Homo sapiens: one gene and its partners. The protein of the gene in region 2 interacts with the protein of the main gene of each other region in a biochemical or structural test. Each region holds a gene or a part of one and is shown on either strand. Other genes may lie near its edges.

Region 1 (7,466 bases), on a different chromosome or scaffold from region 2:
CCTGCCAGGTGCTTCACCTCCATCCTAACTAAACCTTACAACCAGCCCAGGAGGTAGAACTCATGAACCCATTCTACAGATGAAGGAGCTGAGACCCAGACTAAAGACTGCCCAAGGCCCTGCAGACTGGAATCCCAGTCGATTCTCTGCCTCTGAGAGAGAAGCCCAAGTAAGTGAAGATGTGAGGACCTATTGTCTTCTTCCCTCACATCTCCAGAGAGACTTCAGGAGTGCTAGGTTCTGGGGGCAGGCTTGTGATCTCCTCAGGGTCCCCTGAGAACTCCAGGAAAGTGATGAGAGAGTCAGGGTTTGCAGAATTCAGAAGAGTAGGCACTAGACCAAAGCATAGCATAAAACCATTTACCGATGTGGCCATAAGTCCCCCCACCCAACTCCCTCTGTCTCTTAATTGGCTCTCTCTCTCACACACACATACACACACACACACACACACACACACACACACAAACAAACACACGCTGTTAGCAAATCTGTCCTGACAACATCATACAGTCATCCCTCAGTATCCTCAGAGAATTGGTTTCAGGACCCCCTTGGATACCAAAATCAAAGGATGCTCAAGTCCCTATAAAATAGCATGGTATTTGCATATAACCTACTCACATCCTCCCACATACATTAATCATTTTCAGATTATTTATAATACCTAATACACTGTAAATGCGACGTAAACAGTTGATTATACTGTATTATTTAGGGAATGGTGACAAGAAAAAGTCTGTACATGTTCAGTACAGACTCAGCTATCTATTATTTTTTCCAATAGTTTCAATCCAAGATTGACTGAAGGCGTGGATATGGAACCCATGAATAGGGAGGGCAGACTGTATTAGGTGCACATTCATGAGAATAATCAACAGCTCCCCAGATACACAGGACAAACTCAATTCTTCAATAACTGAAGAGGCACAAGTGAGTATTTGTGTGTATTCTTATATGCTCAAGAGAATTCCCAAAGATTTGCCTAGATCTTTCTTGGAAAATCGACTTGGCCTCTGCTGGGATTACTCAACCGCACTTGGAAAAGGGTACCCCAGTGTTAGCAGCTACTGGCTCCATGTTTGGAAAGCAAGTCCTTTCATGGAGTTCAGCTGTTCCTCAGGCATCCAGTAAAGCTGGTTGTGCAAAGGCAGAAAATGTGACAACTGTTGGAAGCCTTCAGCAGCAGCCAATGGGAACAGCCACTGCATCAACAGTTAAAGCAGCCTATTATCCAGTTCACACAAAACACCCACCAGCTACATGGCACCATTAACTCAATATCACCATTCTTATCAAGTTCATGACACACTGGCCATGCTGCCTTGCCACCAACTTTAGAAACCACAAATAACTTCACAAACCATCAAAATACACATGCACAGGGGGAAAGAGAAAGAAGAAAAAAACAACCTTTCTGAGTTCAGAGCACCACGTTCAAAGATTACCTAATAGGCAAACCATGGCATTTCAATATTGCCAGCAAACATCTCTCTCACTTCAGTGGTGAAGTCTCCAAGACATTTCAGATTTGAGGCGTTTGAGAAAGAGGGTCTCAGAGCCTTGGAGACCATGTCAAATGCTTCTAAAAAAGGAAGGGTCTGTGTGCATTTTCCCAATGAAGAATCTGTCCAAAAAGGTTTTGGAAAACGCTTTAATATACTTTGGTTCCAAAACATTACACACTATTTCTCCAACAAATTTATATGTGTTTCCAGAGAACTTCCGAACTGAAAAACACAAATGTATTTAGGTGGAAGAATGTCTGGAGATTCTTTTATGCCAATATGTTAACGGACCTTCTTTTTTAATTGTTACTATTTCATACGGCAGCAGTAATCATTCCCTCATCCTCGAAGGAAATATATAATCCAGCTGTGGTGGCTCCAGTAAAAATACCACATCTGTGGATCATTGGCAACACTGTGTTAAGATTGCTCAAATCTAGGCAGTCTCAGAGAGTTCTTTTTTAAACCCAAGATGCACATGGGTACACTTTTCTGAAAGTGCCTACGAACTTTGCCAAAACTGACTACTCCTTTGTAGGCTGAAAATAGGTTTTCAGATACTCCACACCATAAGAAGGAGGCTCTCATGGAATATTATAACCAGGACCCAGTTGTATGAAGTCCCCAGACCTCCAGGGTGGTGGCTTGTGCCAGTGCCCTTGTCAATATCAAACAGAGAAGGGAAAACTAACATTCCCGGTTTCTGGGAGGAGGTTCTACCGCGTGGCTGGCTGAGTCGCTGACTCCTGGTTTTCCACTTAACAGGAGGACAGCTTCCGCAGAGAGGATGGCAGCCACCGTTCAGGTCACCCTTCTCTTGGTTCTCCAGGCTATGAAGCCAACGTATGCCTGAGCATTCGGTCATAATATTCCTGGAGTCGTCCCCCCACCCCAAGCCTCTGTTTAGTCCTTCCCCAAAGCCCAGCAGCAAGCATCTTTTTTTAAGCCAATCTTCCACATTCAAATCCTCAGTCCAAAGCGCGCCCTTGGGGGTCTCCATCTATAGACATAGAAAAGAAAAGGCAGCCTAGCTGAGCCCTGACAGAGTTTTAGCCCCTGGAACATATGACCTGCGGCTACTGTGCTGGCATGCCGCTTGCCCCGAAACCCTCGGGGGCCCCCTTCCACCCCAGACAATAGAGCAAGAAAATAAAATGAAAGTGGACTTACTGCTATGGCTTGCAGCCTTTCCTTGTGCAATTCCGCCTCTGCCATCCTGGAGAAGGGCACACAGGCAGGGGAAAGAGGAAAGAAAAAACACACGCTGTAGTCACCCAAGGAAACTGATGGGCACCCCGGGGGGCTTTGCTAGAACCCGGGAGAACGCCCAGGGACGGCTGGGGATCCGCTCCAGGGGCGGCGGGCAGAGCTGTGCGCACGGCGGGCTCGCCCGGGCTCAGCCTCTGGCCCCCGCCCTCCCGGCCGCCTGGCTGCGCCCCAGCGCCGCCGCTCACTGCATCTCCCGGTCGCCGCCGCCGCCGGCCGCGCCAGCCGAGGACGTGGGACGCCGGCAGCCGCCGGGAGGGCGCGCTAGCCCGGCGCTAGTTCTCCGCCCTGACGTCTCGGTGCCTCGCTCCGCCCCTGGAGTGTGATGGACCCGAGGCCGCGGTCCAAGGCGGCTCCGAGCGATCGCCGCCGCGGGTCTCCAAGGCGCAGACGGAGGGCGCGCGAGCCAGTGGGCACCTGGGGCGCGGGCGCACGGCGAGCCGCTGGGGCGCACGGCTGGCGTGGCGCGCCCGCGTGGACACGCGCTTGCTGGGGCGGAGGCAGAGCGCAGTGGCGCCTCCACCGGGCAGATGCCAGTGGAGAGGGGCGTCTGACCGAATGTGGGACCCGAGCACGTGCTGTTACGTGGGGGCTGGGGCCACCGAGTGTTCAGGGCACCTTCTGGCTCAAGCCAGACGCTTGAGCTCCACGTGGGGACATTTACAATTTGGGAAGGGCTGCCTTGCCCAAGTGGCCCACATGCTTAAGATGACCAAGTTCTCAATATCAAGTCGGCCGAGGGTAGGGTATATCTCCAGAGAGGCCACCCTTCTGGTGAGGCGATATGTGGCCTTAAAAGAAGCCGAGAGTTTTTAGTCCTGGGTGCTAGACTAGATTTCACAATGTGTTAGCTGTGAAATCTCAGGCAACTCGCTTAATCACTCTGAACCTCAGTTTCCTCATCTGAAAAAATGGAGGATCACATAGGTGTCATTAGAGACGAATGAGAGACAGTATGTAAAGGTGCTTTGTAAAGGGCATCACAGACATCTGCTCTTATTATCCTGTGACATTCTGGATTGAAATCCTTTCAGGGTCTTCTGTTCATTGCATCTGAAAGGAAAAGTAGGATCTACTCACTAAAATATTTCACCTATTCTTTACTAAAACAGGATACCATGTGGTACTAATGTGAGTCTTTTGTGACAGGTCCTGGACTGGATGTAAGAAGTGGATCAGGCCCAGTCCAAAAGGAGATCAATGCCAAAAGCAAAAAAAAATGCCTCTTCACATTGAGGCAGGACCTGCTAGAATTCCCAACATTCATATGCAAACGTTTCTTCATCAAATGAAATAAACACTGAAATAACTAATATGGCCTCTTTAGAGCCATAGGATTTAAAGGCATGTTAAAAGATATACACATCAGGCCAGATGCGGTGGCTCACACCTGTAATCCCAGCACTTTGGGAGGCCAAGGCGGGTGGATCACCTAAGGTCAGGAGTTCGAGACCAGCCTGGCCAACATGGTGAAACCCCTTCTCTACTAAAAATACAAAAAATTAGCCGGGCGTGGTGGCAGGCACCTGTAATCCCAGCTACTTGGGAAGCCGAGGCAGGAGAATCACTGGAACCTGGGAGGCAGAGGTTGCAGTGAGCCGAGATCACATCATTGCACTCCAGCCTGGGCAACAAGAGTGAAACTCTGTCTCAAAAAAAAAAAAAAAAATGCACATCAAATTTTCCCAGATCACCTGTTTCCTGAATAAATGCTTCCATTTCAACTAAATTGCCCTTTCAATTTTCACAGAGGTTCACCTGTCACTGATGAACAATTACTCCTCTGACCAAAGATGGAAGCACTCACCAAAATCGTTTACTGATGGATTGTTTTCCCATCTTTTTCATAACAAGTGTAGGTGGAGCTGATTGTTTAATAAATCCAAGCCAGTGCCAGATTCTACATCCCACTCCAATATATCAGAAACTTCTACTTTCTGGCTAAGCCCATCCTTTTCTTCAAATGCATCCTTTTTTCTTCATTTCCAGCACAAGCCCCAGCAGGACAAGTTATTTAAAGGGGTTTGCTCACAAATAAACAAAGCTGTTATTGCTTCAGCAGAGTGATTGTAGAGAATACTAAGATGAGGAAAATGAGACCAGAGAGGTTGAAAGACTCAGCTACAGTTATAGAGCTGGGATTTAAACTCAGATCACACTCACCAGAGCCCATGCTCTTAACCATTAAGCACCAGGCTTGGCCAATGATATGGAGATAGAAGCAGGCCCCAGGAATAAACAATTGAACCAGAAATGGTCCTTCTACTCCCAGCTATACAGATATTTAAAAGGTATGATTGAGCACAACAGTGTGAATGTACTTACTGTCATCAAACCATATGCTTAAAAGTGGTTGAAATGGTAAATTTTAAGTTTTGTATTTTTAACCGCAATAAATTTTTAAAAGGAGTGATGGAATGGGGAGATGGAGAAGGAAAAGGGCCTGGGCACCCTTTGGAAGTGATCAGTTGGAAATATCTGAACTCTGAATAGAAGAATCGGGGTTGGGGACACACATCCAAGTGTCATCTACTTTGCGGTTACAGCTAAAGAAATGAGAACAGCCAGGATGAGAAAACAGAGCAAGAAGAGGAGAGAGCCCAGCAAAGAAGACTGATAAAGTATCATCCGAGAAGTAGAAGGAAAAATTCAAAGGGATTTGCACCAAAAGCCACAAAGAAGGAAAGAGGTTTTCAACAGGGTCATATGCTTCTGAAAGGTCATGGGGGATGCAGATGAAGAAGAGACCATTGGAGGGCTGTCAGTAAGCCATGAGTGACTTGTGTCCAGAAGATGAGCTTGGAAGCACTTACAAGAGGTGAGGAATGACTGCTACCAAGTGAATGTTGAAAATAAAACAAACAAAAATGGGGATGAGCGAGAGATCAGAGAAGCAACCATGAGTACAAACTGCTTCTTTCAGCTCTTCAGATGTGAAAGATGAAGGTGGAGAACAGGAACATAGCCCATGGGAAGCAGGGTCTAGTGGAAAGGGTTTTTAGGTCAGGCAAGACTTGGATGTTTGGGGGTCAAAGCAAATTAGACAACAGGGAAATTAGGCCAAAGATACAGTCAAAAAGGAAGGTGAATATTAGTCAAAGTCTCTAATTAGTCAAGAGGACATTCAGATGAGCATCACATTAGCCAGTTAGCCTTGGGAAGAAGGAATAACGAAGTAGGGAAGGAGGAAGAAATGGATAAAGACAAGAAGAAAGTTTGAGTTCAACTCTCAGGAGAGAGGTTAAGTGAATTTGCATCAGATGGACTGGTTTTCCCAATTGAACAAAGAGTCATTGATTAAGACTGATGGCGTAGGGTTGGGGCTTCAGAAAAATAGAAATCGTTTGTAAAGAAACTGTGAAAGATGAGAAAGACTAAAACATGGTTCCTAATCAGAAATCTGCATCAGAATCTCCTGAAGACCTGTACAGAATTAAATTTCTACAGGGTGATGTGGGAGTTAGGGATGGGTTTAGAACCTTTGTACTAATTGAATTTACTAGGAATAGACTAAAGACTCATGACCAATAGTGTGTACTTCCTAAGTGATTTTTAACTGCCCTGAGACCCACAATAAAAAAAGCTTGTGTTTATTCAGTGTTGCGGATTATCAAAGCAGGTAAGACAAAAAGCCAAAGAAGAGAGGAAATTCAAAATGCTTCTGGCCAGGTAGGAAGTGTAACAGACTTGTTCATATACACATTTTTTTTTCCTCTGGCTGGCCAATTTGTGAACTCCTTCCCATCTTTGGGGATTTCCCATATTAAAAGCCATAGTGAGAGGCAGAGCCACATCCTGTGGTAGAAGCTGGGAGGTATCAGACACTTGTTCCCCAGATCCCCCTGAAGCCATGGTATGGCAGGCAATCTCGGCTCAGTCAGGCATGTGTGCCTGCCAAGAATTTTGGAGACTGAGCATGTTAGAGAATTCCTTCAGGCTATTAGTTCACCTTTGGTTGTACCCATTGCCCAAGCTTCCTTCTTTGGACGTTCCATCTCTCCTGTGAGCTATCTAATACAATTTCATTTCATTCTTTTTCTGCTCCTATCAGCCAGAATCTATTTCTGTTGCTTGGGACCAAGAACCCTAGGTGAAACAGGAAGGCACATGAAATGACTGCCTGATGGTTGGCCAAGGAGCAGAGGGAAAATCTTTTTTCCTCTTCCAGCACTTCTTTCAACTTTCTAAATTTTAGTATTTTAAAATCTTTGAACCCATTACAAACACAGGCATTTAAAACCCAAACTATGCTATTTATTTAATAAACATATTGTATAATTATTTTATATTAGATGTTTGGCCATGGCCTGGTATTAAGAAAAAAAATCGTAGTCTAGTGCCACAATGATATTGGTGACTATTTGCCCTCCAAACATTTAAAATCTGGATATATACATCACAATGATGCATAATGTATGTAACAAATCACTAGTTCTTGCTGGGACATTAAATTGTGTTGCATAAACACCATCTGTACGGTTTAGTGGTTTTTATGATAGATGCTTCATTGCAAAGCATTATACGAAAAGGATACAGAATGCTAGATATGCAAAATAGATGTTTTGTTAATAAAAATTTCAGAATCTATTTTAGAACATGAGTCCTTTGAGAATCACAAACGATCATAGCCAATTCCTTTGTGGGGAAAACAAGAGCTCTGTATACCAAAAGGGAAATGACTTGCCAAGGCCC
Region 2 (7,622 bases):
ATGCTAAATGACGAGTTAATGGGTGCAGCACACCAGCATGGCACATGTATACATATGTAACTAACCTGCACATTGTGCACATGTACCCTAAAACTTAAAGTATAATAAAAAAGAAAAAAAACTTGTAAACTTTTACTCATCTGAGGCTAATTTCTAAAATCCTAAAGTGTTGTGTAAATAAAAATTGTCTCAAAGCAGGTTACTGCTTTGTGATTTACAGAGATGACAGTGAAACAAACCTGAAATAAAGCTTTTAAAAACAAATTTGTCCCTGGAAGATTGTTGTCACTGTCCTCAACTTAAAGATAAGAAAATCTGAGATCAAACAGGTTTGAGAATTTGTCCAAGACCACAAAGCAAACCTGTGGCAGAGTTTAGAAAATAATTTCTGATTTCCCAAAAACCCATGATGTAATGTGCAATAAATCAAGGGAAACCCAGAAGAGCCCTTGTTACTCCTTTAGCATGAATACACTTAGGGAGATTGCCCAGTGCACTGAAGCTTGTGACCTCCCACAGCAATGACCGTTAATTAACTCCTTCCCTGCCGTGACTTGAATACTGGGCCAGACCAGATACAACTCAGAACTAGTTTTGTGTGTGTGTGATCTAATAACACTAAGATCCTAACTTGGCCTCTCAAATGGTTTCATTGTTTTGTTAAATTTTAGTTGTTCAAAAGTAGGCCAATTCTACTGTTAAATTGACAAAGCATATGTTGAAGCAACCAAGGAAACTGTAATAGCTTCTTAACACTCTTGCGTAGATCAGATGTAGAAAGTGTTATTTTGGACAGGAGCAGTAGCTCATGCCTGTAATCCTAGCACTTTGGGAGGCCAAGGCAGGAGCATTACTTGAGGCCAGGAGTTCAAGACCAGCCTGGGCAACACAGGGAGACCCCGTCTCTATAAAACACTTAAAATTAGTAAGGCATGGTGGCACATGCCCTTAGTCCCAGCTACTTGGGAGGCCCAGGTGGGAGGATACCTTGAGCTTGTGAGGTTGGGGTTGCAGTGAGCCCTGATTGTGCCACTACACCCCAGCCTGGGTGACAGAGCGAGATCCTGACTTTAAAAAAAAAAAAAGGTGTGATGATCTTGGATCACCAAATCTGTGAGGGGAGGGACAGTCTCCAACTTGTTTCCTGCTCGGTCCTTATTGCGTACTCTTGGAGTTTATTGCAAACTCTTGGAGAAGGTTTACTATTACTAAATGATAAATCCTGACACAGCAAGTAGAGCCAATGAAGCTGCTCTCCTGATCTCAGTCTCTGCTGGGATCCTTTCCTTTAAAGCTACAACCCACCCACTAAACAAGAATATAGTTACTGGGTTTTTCCTTTTTCTTTTTTTTTTTTTTTGAGACGGAGTTCGCTCTGTCGCCCAGGCTGGAGTGCAGTGGCATGATCTTGGCTCACTGCAACCTCCGCCTCCCAGGTTCAAGCGATTCTCCCTGCCTCAGCCTCCCAAGTAGCTGGGACTACAGACGCCCGCCACCACGCCCGGCTAATTTTTGTATTTTTAGTAGAGACGGGGTTTCGCCATGTTGGCCAGGCTGGTCTCGAACTCCTGACCTCAGGTGATCCACCCGCCTCGGCCTCCCAAAGTGCTGGGACTACAGGCGTGACCCACCACGCCCGGCCAGGTTTTTCGTTTTCAAAAATGAGGTAGGGTGTCTATTTTGCCCAGGCTGGTCTCGAACTCTTGGATTCAAGCGATATTTCCTCCTCAGCCTCCAGAGTAGCTGGTATAGACTATAGGGGCCCACTGCCCCGGCCGGCAAGATAATTATTTACTCTCACCAAATTTGATTCAATCGTTTTGGCCAAGTTTTTAAAAATAGGAATATTCCCAGGGACCATGTTTGAAGAAATACAAACTCAAGTAAGCAGAGGTGAAATGACCTGAGAGATTTGCTTTAATACACTTCGGCAAAGAAAGAAAAAAGGTATGGATGAAACTTTGTGACAAACGCAACTGTTAAATGTAGGTGATGGCATATAGGGATTCATCTCACCTTTCCTCTTTTGTCTATGCTTAAAAGTTTTCACAGTAACTTTTCAAAAAAAATTATTATTTCCAAACAAACTTACTGTCCTATCAATTAAACACAAGTCACTGGATGAGAACGCTGTTGTCTTCGAAGCCAAAACTGGTGAAGGGTCTTAAGCAAAGGCGAGGGATCCTCTAGCAGGGCCGACAGCGCGCACGTTTCCTTCAAGGCTGGATCTGACAAATCACTCGGTGCGCTCTAGGGCTCGCAGGATCGCGGAGCTCAATTTGGAAGTGGCGCACGCGGGCTCACGCCGGTGTCTCAGGGAAACGCTAGAAACGCGGCTACAGAGCTCCCAATCCCAGCCTGCGGTCGGCTTGGCTGCGGCGCGACACCTGGCTCCCTGCCACCCCTCTAGACCTCTGGAGACCTCCTGCACCACTCCCCAGGGCCCCGCCCACAGCCTACCTTCCAAGTCCTCGTCCTCCTCCGACTCGCTGTCCCCTTTGGCGTCGGCGACACGGTCCGGGCCGGGTTCTGGCGGGGGGTGGCCCAGGCTCTGGCGTGGGGTGGCGGCGGGCAGGACTGAGGCTGGGGCGCGGGCCTCGCGCAGGCGGGTGAAGTACTCCACTGCGAATTCGACGAGGTCAGGCGGCTGCTGTCGCAGCACCTCCACCGTGTAGCCCTGCAGCAGCTCCGTGAGCCCCGGCGGGATCTGGATGTGGCTCATGCCGGCGGCGGCCGAAGGGATAGACGGGTTGGGCCGCCGGCGGCCACTGTCTCCGCGCTCACTCACGCCGGCCTTTCGCTCCGCGCCCGCGAGGTCTCTTCGCGCACGGCCCCGGCTCACGTCGCGCCGCTCTTTGGCCGGCTCTGCGTTTCCGGGCCGCGCAACCCTACGCTACCACGGCCGACCTGGCACCGCCGCCGCTGTCACTGGGCAGCCGCCGCCGCCGCGGGGACCGACGGGCAGGCGAGCTGGACGGGCGGGGCAGGCGTCCTGGTTGTGACGCACGCCACCGCGGGCGTGCGCGTCCCCGCTTAGCACCGGCCCTCAGTGCGCTTGCGCCACTAGATGACCCGCCCCCTCGGGCTGTCGGGGGGTCGAGACAGTGGAGTGTTCCTGATGCCAGCTCACGGAGGGAATCCAGGGAATTAGGTAATGAACGGTCTACCCATGAAGGGGACCGATTAGTGCCTCTCGCCTGGTCCTGAAGACCTTTAAATTATTCTTTCAGCTGATGCCAAGAGCCTCTTTTTGGCCAGCACTTACTAAGCACCAGAGACACAGCGAGAAGCAGAAGCATACGAGCACATCAGTGTGATTCTGCTGTGATGAAGGGCAAGAGAGGGCTCACTTTCCGGCGTGACATTCAAGCTAGCCCCGAGGCCTGAGCAGGACCCGCCCAGGGGAAGATCTGGAGGAAAGCCATCTGAACATACAACAAGAGCAAAGGCCTGGTGGAGTCAAGACCACCTTGGCTGCCAGGTGGAATGGTGGAATAACTCAGGAGTCTGTCAGGTCTCTGAGATGTCAAACGGGTAAGGCCTTGTAGGAAGTAGGCGTTTGAATGAGATCATAATTTGAGAGCCACAGACAGAAAAATAAATTTGAAAGAGTTCACTCAGCCAAATGTGTACAGTGAGAAAGGGAAATAAGGCCAAAAGCAGCAAAGACCTCTGTGCCTGTTCCTCCTGGAGCACTTTCACCAGGGTCCCCAGATCTAGGTCTGCCCATTCCTCTCCCCACATTCTACACTGGGCCCTAGGTCAACACTGCTTGATGAAGTTGAGCAGACCACAGGCATTGTTATCCTTTGCCCCTGGGAAGATGGTATAGGTGAACTGTAGAGGCCAGACTATTTCCCAAATTGCCCTCCTCCTCCTACCAAACTGGAAGGGTATTGAAAAAGGTGGAGACCTTCCTGGGATGTCCAGTCTACAGCCTACGTGCTAACCAAAGGCCCACTGGGCATAGAGCAGAGTCCCCCTCTCCTTACAGGCCTAGCCAGGAAGAGAGTAGCTGTAGGTTTGGGAACCTGAGGGCATTTGGGATGCTTAAACACCGCCTGGTAATTACTCAGTATTAATTAAAATCCTCCCTATCACCTCCCATACAGGCTTGGCACACACCCAGGAGCTCAATGCTGCTGGGAGCTGAGCAGCTGGGAGCAAGGAGCCCTCATCCCCACTGATGAAGAGGCCAGCCCAGGTTCTAGGCTAAGCAGGCCTGTGATTATAAACAGCAGTGTCTCCCTGGACAAGTTTCTTGACCCTGAGAAGAATGTTAGACCATCAACTTTGTGAGGGGACAGGCAGTCTCCAACTTTTTTCCTGCTCAGTCCTTATTGCATACTCTTGGAGAAGGTCTACTGACTTGTTCTCAGATGCCCCACGGCTCAGCCAACCACCCATCCAGCAGAGCATTCAAAAGGCATCTGGAAGGAATGAGGGCGACCGTTCTGCCAGGCCCCTATTTTTTTTTGAGAGGAGTCTCACTCTGTCGCCCAGGCTGGAGTGCAATGGCATGACCTCTGCTCACTGCAAGCTCTGCCTCCCAGGTTCAAGCGATTCTCCTGTCTCAGCCTCCCAAGTAGCTGGTACTACAGGCGTGCACCACCACACCCAGCAAATTTTTTCTATTTTTAGTAGAGATGGGGTTTCTCCATGTTGGCCAGGATGGTCTCAATCTCTTGACCTCGTGATCCACCCGCCTCAGCCTCCCAAAGTGCTGGGATTACAGGCGTGAGCCACCGCACCTGGCTTTTTTTTTTTCTTTTAGATGGAGTCTTCCTTTTGTCGCCCAAGGTGGAGTGCAATGGCACGATCTCAGCTCACTGCAACCTCCACCTCCCAGGTTCAAGCAATTCTCCTGCATCAGCCTCCTGTGTAGCTGGGATTATAGGCACCTGCCACCATGCCCAGTTAATTTTTGTATTTTCAGTAGAGACGGGGTTTTGCCATGTTGGCCAGGATGGTCTCGAACTCCTGACCTAGGGATCTGCCCGCCTTAGCCTCCCAAAGTTCTGGGATTACAGGCGTGAGGCACTGCACCTGGCCATTTTGTTTGTTTGGGTTTGTTTTTGAGATGGAGTCTTGCTCTGTTGCCCAGGCTGGAGTGCAGTGGCATGATCTCGGCCCATTGCAAGCTCCACCTCCCGGGTTCATGCCATTCTCCTGCCTCAGCCTCCAGAGTAGCTGGGACTACAGGCGTGCGCCACCATGCCCAGCTAATTTTTTGTATTTTTTAGTAGAGACGGGGTTTCACCATGTTAGCCAGGATGGTCTGGATTTCCTGACCTCATGATCCGCCTGCCTTGGCCTCCCAAAGTGCTGGGATTACAGGCGTGAGCCACCACGCCTGGCCTGTTTGTTTTTTTGAGACACAGTCTTACTCTGTTGCCCAGGCTGGAGTGCAGTGACGCGATCTCGGCTCACTGCAACCTCCACCTCCCAGGTTCAAGCGATTCTCGTGTCTCAGCCTCCCAAGTAGCTGGGATTATAGGTGCGCACCACCACGCCCGGCTTATTTTTTGTATTTTTAGTGCAGATGGGGTTTCACCATATTGGCCAGGCTGGTCTTGAACTCCTGACCTCAGGTGATCCGCCTGCCTCAGCTTCCCAAAATGCTGGGATTACCAGCATGAGTCACCACGCCCGGCCAAGAAAGACCCATATTTTGTTTTGTTTTCTTTTTTGAGATGGAGTCTTGCTCTGTCGCTCAGGCTGGAGTGCAGTGGCGCAATCTCTGCTCACTGCAACCTCCACCTCCTGGGTTCAAGCCATTCTCCTGCCTCAGCCTCCCGAGTAGCTGGGACTACAGGCGCACACCACCACGCCTGGCTAATTTTTGTATTTTTAGTACAGACAGGGCCAGACTGGTCACGAACTCCTGACCTCAGGCGATCCACCCGCCTCAGCCTTCCAAAGTGCTGGAATTATAGGTGTGAGCCATCGCACCTGGCCACCAGACCCCCATTAACTTCAGTAGGGATGGCACCAGGTTTGAGAGGCCAAAAGAGATCCAGAGCCAGCAAACAAGACTTAGGTTTGATTGAGGGGAATTTGCATACAGAGCAGTCCAGTGGAGGTGGGCTAGATAGGAGAACTGCCCCACCTGCAGAAAGTATGCAGTATATATAGCATTTTCACTTAACACCCTCCCCCTAACAACTTTGATTTAACCCAAAACAAAGGGGCTAAATCCCCTGTACATCCACAGGACAGAATGGGGGCTCAGATATTCCTCATGGGTAAGTAATGAATCTCTGGCTTGTCCTCACTTGGAACTCCTAACACATTCAGGTGCATCTGCCATACAGGGTCATTCTCAGAGTATGCTTAAGTTATTGCTGTCAGGTGCAGCTACCATACACAGGTGTGTCTGCCATATAGCCACAGAAAGCAGGAGTCCTACAGCTGCTCCTCATGGGTCTCCATAGACTAGTCTTAGAGCAAGGATGGGCAGCCAGCCTCCAGGTTTAACCTGGCACTCTCCCCCAGCACTTGGTCCCCAGAGCAGGGGTGCATCTCTCCCACTTCTGGTCAACCCTTCAGTAACAAGTAGAGCCCCCAGGGTCTTCATGAATATCTAGTTGAACTGGCTAAAGAAGAGGGCCCTGTAACAGGACAGAACACCAGGAGCCTGAACCCCGCATCTTCTACCCTTATCCTGCATTTATCCTGCCTGCATTCAAGCCTGTCCAGCTGCACCACTGGAGGTTACCATGGCAACTAAACCCAGAGGCAGCCGGTAACTGAGATACAGCTGCCAAGAGCAACTGATGGTGGAAAAGGCCAACAGCAGAGACTCTTAGAAGGAAGAGAAGTACACAGGAGGAGGCCCCAGAACCCTGAGGGTGCTACACTCAAATCTAATCCTACTCACAACTCAGCAGGCAGTCAACGTCTTGCACAAACTGCCATATCACCAACCAGAGGCACAGATATGGACACAATGGGGCCAATTTGCAGAGATGTTTGCAACTATGGATGCAGAGTAGCACAGGTGGGACACATGTTGTTTAGCCCAAAAGCAACGGGTCTTGGTGAAAACGAAAATGGGTAGGGTACCATTGCTGTTTCCAATGAAACAATGAATTTTGTGTGCTCTTGATAGGTTTGTTATTCAAACGTTTCTGTCTGTCTCTCCAAGATGAAGAGAGGGGCCTAAACTTCCCCGAACTCCTCTGAAGGCCTGCTCTTGGCTCAGATCCTCCAGCTTAAATACCTTATGCCCTCTGCATACTTGCAGGACTCAGGTCCAGCAGGAAAACCTCCCTCTTACTTGATCAAGGGACCACTTTTCTAAGCCATTCCAGTCCCCCACCCATTTCCTGGGATCCGCTGGTCACCTGACCACCTCTACATGCCAGGCCCTCCTGGATTTAGTACTCCCAGCTCACTTAGTTCCTACAAGCAACAGCTTCTATGTTGCCTTAGAAGTGTTCATGAGCCTTTAGTTGGCAAGAGAGATTGAGGAAGTGGGCTATGTTTTCTCGGCCCTTACCCAAGCTGTCTTTCAGCCTCTACTGTGGCTCCTCCAGCGAGGCCATTGCCTTTTGCCCAGGAAATCTAATCTGTTTTAACAAGTGCCCATGCTCCAGGGAGCAGTTAGCTCCCAGGCCACG
Region 3 (8,012 bases), on a different chromosome or scaffold from region 2:
GTCATAATTTCTTCACTACCTCGCCCTCTCACTGAAGCAACCAAAAAAAAAAAAAAAAAAAAAACCTAACTAGTAAAAACACCACACCTTAACTTAGTTATGGCAAGTAGCTGGCTCTATCTACTATTGTGCAATCAAAGAATATTTCTATTATTTGAGAATTAAATATGATCCAACTTTGTTACTACATAAGGCAAGTATGCTTAGCCCTGGGGGAAGTTTGTGGAGCAGCCATCAGTTTGCCTTCATTACATCATCATTACTTAATTCAAATGGTATGAGCTGAGATTCACTAGTAGCTCAAATATTCAAATCAAACAGTTAGTAATGTAGCTCTCCAAACTTTAGGCTAAGGATTTTTTGTTTTGTTTTGCTTTTTTTGGTCTCTAAAACAGTTTTTTTTGTTTTTTTTTTGTTTTTGGTCTCTCACTAAGCTATTTTTCTCCCTCATATTCAGAGATATTAAAATTCTATCTCTGAAAATCTTACTTATAATGTGAGCCTAATAATTTCTATAAATTTACCTCTAATTTTGTAAATTGCTGGTCTGTACTTGCTGTATGGGACAACAATACCTGTTGAAACAATATCTAACATCCAGAAATCCCTTTTGGAGATCTTAAACTTTTGTTTTCCTTCCTGGCAAAACTCAAGCTTTGGATTTAGTGAAAAGTACAAGGATATCCCATCTAGGCAGATGTTTATCAGAGTCTGATAAAAAACTAGATATGACCCCTTCCTGTCATTCGAGGTCTGTGATTAATAAAAAAAGAAGAGGTGATACCAGAAAGAAAATTTGTATCTTACTCCTGCTTTTACTTTCTCAAGTTTCTAACTATAAACACTTAAAAATCTAGTTACTCATACTGATTTACCAGCAGTGGGACCCAATCGTAGTTTAATAACAAAATGCCATAATTTACATAAAGAGTAAGGCAAGGTCAATCACCCTTGTAAGCAAGGTTTTAAAACCATCTTTGTGAAAAACCTCAGCTATGCTGCAGATTCCTGGAGAATGACCGTCACATGGTAAGGCAACCTTTAGAATCCATGACTTTGTCAAGAAGCAGAAATACTGCTCATTAGGGTTCTGTGCAACGGCAGGAAGTGTTTCGAAAAAACTTCTGGCTTCAAAGATGACTTTTCAAACGAACTTTTGGTTTTTGGTAACAAAAAACAACAACAAAAAGCTGAGTCCCTGGCTGATTACTCCTTTTTTCTGAGCAACTGAGTTGCATACAGTTATTCTCCTGTCTGAGGGACAGAAATGTGCTCTTAAATGAATGAGTTATAGGTTACAATTATTTACTACTCTTTCTTATGTAACAAGCTATAAATGACAAGAGCACTACCTGGCAGACAGACAGTAGACCTGTGATCCCCCCAACCACTCTGCTACCAGCCAGGTAGCTATACCCTCCATGGGCTTCAGTGTAGGGACTGTAGAATGAAGGGTGGCCTCAGGTGTCCTCTAACCCTAAACCAGCTCCCATTCTAATGCTGTACTGCAGACTGTGCTTCTTAACACCTGTAATGATTGAACAGAGTAATTTTCGTACTTTTTTTTTTTTTTTCTGAGATAGGGTCTCACTCTGTTGACCAGGCTGGAGTACAGCAGTGAGAACACAGCTCACTGAAGCCTTGACCTCTCCTAGGGTCAAGTGATCCTCCTGCCTCAGGCTCCTGAGTAGCTGGGACTACAGGCACGCACGACCACACTTGTCTAATTTTTTGTATGTATGTATGTATATATGTATGTATGTATTTTGTAGAGACAGGGTCTCACTAACAGCCCAGGCTGGTCTCGAACTCCTGTGCTCATGCGATCCTCCAGTCTAGGCCTTCCAAAGTGCTGGGATTACAGGCGTGAGCCACTGGCACTTGGCTTGGTACCATTTCTATGAACTTTCCAATAGTTAACATCATCTTTAAAACGCCCACTCCCAACCACCACACCAGGCAAAGTTCAAGTGTTCATAAATCAGAGCAGAGGGAAATGTACCCCCTCAAACAGAACAAATGAAAGCAAATGGCAGAGAAACACTGTATTGAGGAGTGGGGGGGGGGCGGGGGGGGGCGAGGGCACCAGGGATGGGACTAGGTGTTGGTTTAGCAAGAGAGGAAGGGGTGAGTGTAAGGTTTCAGAAAAGCTTTCCCAAATCTTCACGGAGTGTCTGTCCTCGGCTTCCGATGAGAGCAAAGTATTTGAGGAATGGAGTTTCCCTCACAAAGGCCAGTCTCAGAGCCAAGGCGGGTGGTGGAAAATGATCTGGAAAGGAACCTGGCTTTTGGTCTTGGTGGTGTCACTAACTAGGAGTGCAGCTTCGGGTTAAGTCACCCAATCCCTCTGAACTTGAGTTGAGGCTGAGAGGCGCCGGCCCGCTCCAAAGCAGCCTTCTCAACTAGTCCTGGTGTATGTATGATATACTTGCATTATTCAGAGTTCAAACTTCTGGAAAAGGCCCCCTGGCCTCCTCGCCTCCCTTCAGGAGAGCGAGCTCTGGCGTGCAGGACCTGCTCCAACTCCTACTGCCCATCCCATCCTCTGGGCCCCACCGAGTCCAGCCGACCGCGTCCATCGCATCTCGCCCTTGGATTGGGCCTCTCTCTTCTCCTAAAGGTACCCAGGCAGACGAGTTCAGGCAGAAAAGAAAAAGAAAAGAAGCAGAGAGGAGCCAGGCGGCCCGGCGGGGCTCTGGAGTGGGAAACTCGCGGCCGCGCTTACCCGCGATGTCCCACAGCTGCAGGCGCACCAGAGTCCTGCTGTCCCAGTTGAGGACCTTGAGGGCGAAGTCCACCCCGATGGTGGCCCGGTAGTGCTGGGAGAAGAGCTGGTGGACGTAGCGCTTGATGATGCTGGTCTTGCCCACGCCAAGCTCGCCGATCACCAGCACCTTGAAGAGGTGCTCGCGGGTCTCGGGCGCTGGGGCGGCGGCCGCCCCCAGGCCGGGGTCCCCGGCTCCTCCGCCCGCCATGAGCGCTGCGGCTGTCGGGCGCGCCTCGACTCCGAGTCTGGCCCCCTGCCCGGCCTCGCGCTCTGCCGCCGCGCCCCCGGCGGCCGCGGAAACTCCCCCGAGGCCGGCCAGCCCTCCGCCGCGCCCGCTGACGCCGCCTGACCGGTCACAGGACCCAGAACCCGCCAGTGCTCGCGGCCCGGGCGGGGCCAGACGAGGGCAGGGCCGGACGAGGGCAGGGCCTGGCGCCGGCTTGGGGAGGACCCTGCGCGAGGCGGCTCCCGCCCTGCGCCTCTGAAGCCCGGCCGGGCCCAACTGGACTTCCTCTCCCGGGCGGCGCCTCCGAAGCCCGGCCGGGCCCAGCTGGACTTCCTCTCCCGGGCGGCGCCTCCTGGCGGTCGCGGCGCGGAGGGAGGCCCAGACGCCCGCTGGTGGGCCTCCGGGGAGCCGGCCTGGAGCCTTTATGGGCCCCGGAGGTTCACTGGGGGCCTGAGGAGGCGCCGAGGTCGCTGAGCCCCCCCCGGGGCCGGGGTCGGCGTGGGGTCCGGGCCCAGCCTGGAAGCCTCTGGCCTGGAAATCCACCTCCTGCCCTACTCTCCCCGCAGGGAGAGCCACACTTGCGGGCCTTGGCTTGGGTCGCGAGCAGTCCCCTTTAGATGGGAAAGGAAGTGGCACCGTGACTTTGAACTTAACGAAGGACGGATAACACTGGGCTGGTAGTTCTGTTTTTAACTTTTTGAGTGAACCTCCGTAGGGTTTTCCATAATGGCTGTTCCAGTCCGCATTCCCACCACCAGTGTACAAGGTTCCCTTTGCTCCGCACATCACCGACACTTATTATCGCTTATCTTTTTTATAACAGTCATCCTAGCAGGTGTGAGGAGATACCTAGTGGCTTTTCCCTGTTCATTAGTGATTTTGAGCGCCTTTTCTTATACCTGTTGGCAATTTGTACTTCCTCTGGAAAAAAAAAAAAAGTCCATTCACATCCTTTGCCCGTTAGTTAACTGGGTGTTTTATTTATTTATTTTGGCTGAGTTCTGTGAACGTAATGTATTTTGGATATTAACCCCTTATCAGATATATGGCTCACAAATATTTTCTCCCAATCTATAGGCTGTTTTTTCATTTTGTTGATTATTTCCTATGCGGTGCAGAAGCATTTTAGTTGGATGAAGTCCCATTTATCTAGGTTTGCTTTGGTTGCCTGGGCTTTTGGTGTGATATTGCAAAAATCGTTGCTAAAGCCAGTGACCCAGCTATCCCTCTTCTGGGTGTATACTCAAAGGAAATGAAATCAGGATCTCAGAAATCGCTCTCAAGTTCATGCAGCATTATTCACAGTTGCGAAGATTTGGAAACAACCAAAGTGTCTGTTAACGATGAATGGATAAAGAAATTGTAATACATACATAGGCATGCACGCGCGCATATACACAGACGCACACACACACACAATGGAATATCATTCAGCCTTTAGAAGGCGATCCTGACATTTGCAACAACATGGATAAACCTGGAGGACATTATGCTAAGCGAAATAAGCCAGACACAAAAAGAAAGATACTGTGCAATATCACTTATATGTGGAATCTTAAACACACACACACACACACACACACACACGGAATACGTGGAAACAGTGGTGGTTACCAGGGGCAGGGAAGAAACGGAATGATGCAGGTCAAAGTGTACAAAGTTGCAGTTATATAGGATGAATGAGTCCTAATGATCTAATGTAGCATGAGCGTTATAGTTAATAATATTGTATTTTAAACTGGAAATTTGCTAAGAGAGTAGACTGTAAGTGCTGTTACCATTAAAAAAAAATTGCAGCCAGGTGTGGTGGCACCCACCTGTAGTCCCAGCTACCCAGAAGACTGAGGTGGGACGACTACCTGAGCCTGGGAGGTCCAGGCTTCAGTGAGCTTAATCGCACCACTGTATTCCACCTGGGCGACAGAGTGAGACCATCTCAAAAAAAAAAAAAAAAAAAAAGAAAAGAAAAAATGAAAAGAAAAAATTGTGTAACTATGTGAGATGATGGACATGTTAATTTGTTAATTTGCTTAACTCTAGTAACTATTTCACTATGTATATCAAAGCATCATGCCGTATACCTTAGATATAGATATATATATATATACACACACACACAACAAAATAGTCTATTAAAAACCTTATCATGCTTTAGCATTTAAATTATGGAAGGAGTTTGAGAAAGAAGACACAGGGACTCTGAAGCCATCTTACTTTACTTCCCTAACAATCCTTTTTCAACCTTCATCTGGTAGTGTTTGGATTAGATGTAAATGCTCTAAGATAAATCATAGGAAATTGATTGGAAAGTAGTAGACTTGTGGGTTTTTATTTTAAAGAAGAAACATGGGGGACAGCCCCTTGCTTTCTCTATCTATAAAGTTGAGGGATGCACCCCATCACCTTAATATTTAGAAACACCTGGAGCTGACATCATCTGGCAGCTTCCTTAAATAAACTAAAGCAGCTGCTTACCCTACTATCCTCACTCTAATTGACAATTATTGAAAAGTGTTTTTCAGAGATGGAGGCGTTTTAAAATTTAGAAGTCAAGGTGGGAGTAAAACCTTTTTCTAGAATAGCTATTGAAAAACCACAGATGTGGAAGTACAGCCAACCAGTACATGGCTTTTATGTTCACCCAATTAGAGAGCCCTTCCAAACCCATGTACAGTTTGGGAAAAAAAGGAAATCCTCCAATTTTTGGACAAAGTGCAGCATTTTGTTCCGTACGTATGTAATACCATAGATGTTTTTTTTTATTCGTCCTTCTCTAGCCCTGCTGAATTTCCACTGACTTTAGAGGTAGAATTGTGGTGGTGCTTAAAATTAGAAAAGGTCACTGCTAAAGGCAGGATAAAGTTGTGGATCAACGATTCAAAGACAGGATAAGAGTTTAGATGAGTGGTTTTCAAACTTGAGAGTTCTGGGTTTGTTAAAACAGAGGGGTTCTGATTCAGATCTAGGGTGAGGCAAATAATTTGCATTTCTAACAAGTTCCCAGGAGATGTTGCTGCTAAGTGTCTAGGAGCACAGTGGTTTGGATCAGAATTTGCTTCTCGAACTTAAAAGTTCTTATGTATCTAGTAATACATACCACTTTTTTTTAAATCCATTTATCCTTCCGTAGATATTGAGATTGCTTCCACACTTTGACTATTGTCAATTGTGCTGTATTGAACATTTGGGTGCTAATATCTCTTCAAGATTCTGATTTTCATTCTTTTGGAGAAATACCTGGAAGTGGGATTGCTGGATCATATGGTGGTTCCATTTTTAATTTTTTGAGAAATCTCCATATTATTTTCTATAGTGGCTGCACCATTTTGCATTCTCATCACCAGTATACAAGCGTTCAATTTTCTCTGCATCTCTACCAACACTTGTTGTCTTTTAAAAAATATAATAGCCATCCTTATATAATGGAATATTATTCCACCTTAAAAATAAGGAATTTCCACAATATGCAACAACATGGATGAACCTCAAAGACGTTATGCCGAGTGAAATAAGCCAGTCACAATAGGAAGAATTCTGCATGAATCCACTTATATAAGGTATCTAAAATAGCCAAACTCAGAAAATCAGGAAGGAGAATGGTGGTTTTCAGGGTCTGGAGTCAGGGAGAAAAGGGAAATTGCTAATTTCAATTATGCAAGATGAATAAGTTCTAGAGATCTGCTGCACCACATTGTGCCTACAGTTAACAATAGTCTTGCACACTTAAACATTTAAGAAAGTAAATTTTATGTTGTGTTCTTACTACAATACAATTATTAAAGTTCACATAAATTATGTAGGATCTTAGAAAAGTTTAAATTCTGATTCAGCATATCTGGGATGGAACCTGAAATTCAAAATTTCTAACAAGTTTCTAGGTGATGTCAATGCTGTTGGTAGACCACACTTTTGTTAGCAAGGTGTGATGGTTAATATTTAATGTCAACTTGATTGGATTGAAGGATGCAAAGTATTGTTCATGGGTGTGTCTGTGAGGGTGTTGCCAAAGGAGATTAACACTTGTGTCAGTGGACTGGGAGAGGAAGACCCACCCTCAACCTTGGTGGGCACCATCTATTCAGCTGCCAGTGTGGCTAGAATTAAAGCAGGCAGAGGAATGTGGACGGACTAGTCTTCCAGTGTTCATCTTTCTCCTGTGCTGGATACTTCCTGCCCTTGAACATCAGACTCCAAGTTCTTCAGCTTTTGGACTCTTGGACTTACACCAGTGGTTTGCCAGGGGCTCTTAGGCCTTCAGCCACAGATTGGCAGCTGCACTGTTGGCTTCCCTACTTTTGAGGTTCAAGGACTCAGACTGGCTTCCTTGTTCTTCATCTTGCAGATGGCCTACTGTGGGACTTCACCTTGTGATCTTGTGAATGAATACTCCTTAATAAACTCCCCTTTATATATACATCTATCCTATTAGTCCTGTCCCTCTAGAGAACCCTGACTAATACACACGGGTTCAGATTAGAATTCAGTAGTTCCCACATTTGCTGTGTATCTGACTTACCTAGGGAGCTAGCTAGTTAATTAGCCCCGACCTTCTGTTTTAATGTTTTAGAAGGGGATCCCAGGAATCTGTATTAAAACACAAACAAACCTAGATAAGCATGATGCACACACTAAAGAAACCAGACATACATAATACCAAGTACTGTAAGTAAGTGTTGGACAATATCTGCGTGTACAGCCCTGAACTGGAGAAGGTTGGGGGAGAATGGATAAGTGTTAGAATCCTGAACTGACATTTTAGAGGAAAACAAGTTTTCTTTCCACACATGAAATAAAGAGAACATAATACAGGTAATCTGAGACTTGTCACTGAATAAATACGACTGCCTTTATTTTAAACAGACATTTCCATTTACTACATAAAAAAATAGCCCACTCAGAAAGTCACCCTGTGATGTTCCCCTACACATTTATTATGTTTCAGCATTTGCTATGCCTTTTATCTAGAATGTTCCAAACCATTACCCCATCCCAGGCTCTCAAATAAACTGTCCTCATCCT

What was found.
Region 1: the proteins of PRKAR2A (region 2) and PALM2AKAP2 form a complex in vitro, tested with the Homo sapiens proteins (2 studies listed by BioGRID, with this or other methods).
Region 3: the proteins of PRKAR2A (region 2) and RAB32 interact in a test that uses a peptide from one of them, tested with the Homo sapiens proteins (2 studies listed by BioGRID, with this or other methods).

What each region holds. Positions count from the first base shown.
Region 1 is NC_000009.12:109,775,746-109,783,211, reverse strand, and holds the start of PALM2AKAP2 (PALM2-AKAP2 protein isoform 3 (PALM2-AKAP2)), read right to left. Parts: upstream 3,015-7,466; 5' UTR 2,725-3,014; coding exon of another isoform or gene 2,724-2,724; coding exon 2,679-2,723; intron 1-2,678. UniProt on the Homo sapiens protein: Binds to regulatory subunit (RII) of protein kinase A. May be involved in establishing polarity in signaling systems or in integrating PKA-RII isoforms with downstream effectors to capture, amplify and focus diffuse, trans-cellular signals carried by cAMP.
Region 2 is NC_000003.12:48,844,875-48,852,496, forward strand, and holds the start of PRKAR2A (cAMP-dependent protein kinase type II-alpha regulatory subunit), read right to left. Parts: upstream 3,001-7,622; 5' UTR 2,723-3,000; coding exon 2,461-2,722; intron 1-2,460. UniProt on the Homo sapiens protein: Regulatory subunit of the cAMP-dependent protein kinases involved in cAMP signaling in cells. Type II regulatory chains mediate membrane association by binding to anchoring proteins, including the MAP2 kinase.
Region 3 is NC_000006.12:146,538,835-146,546,846, reverse strand, and holds the start of RAB32 (ras-related protein Rab-32), read right to left. Parts: upstream 3,015-8,012; 5' UTR 2,976-3,014; coding exon 2,726-2,975; intron 1-2,725. UniProt on the Homo sapiens protein: The small GTPases Rab are key regulators of intracellular membrane trafficking, from the formation of transport vesicles to their fusion with membranes.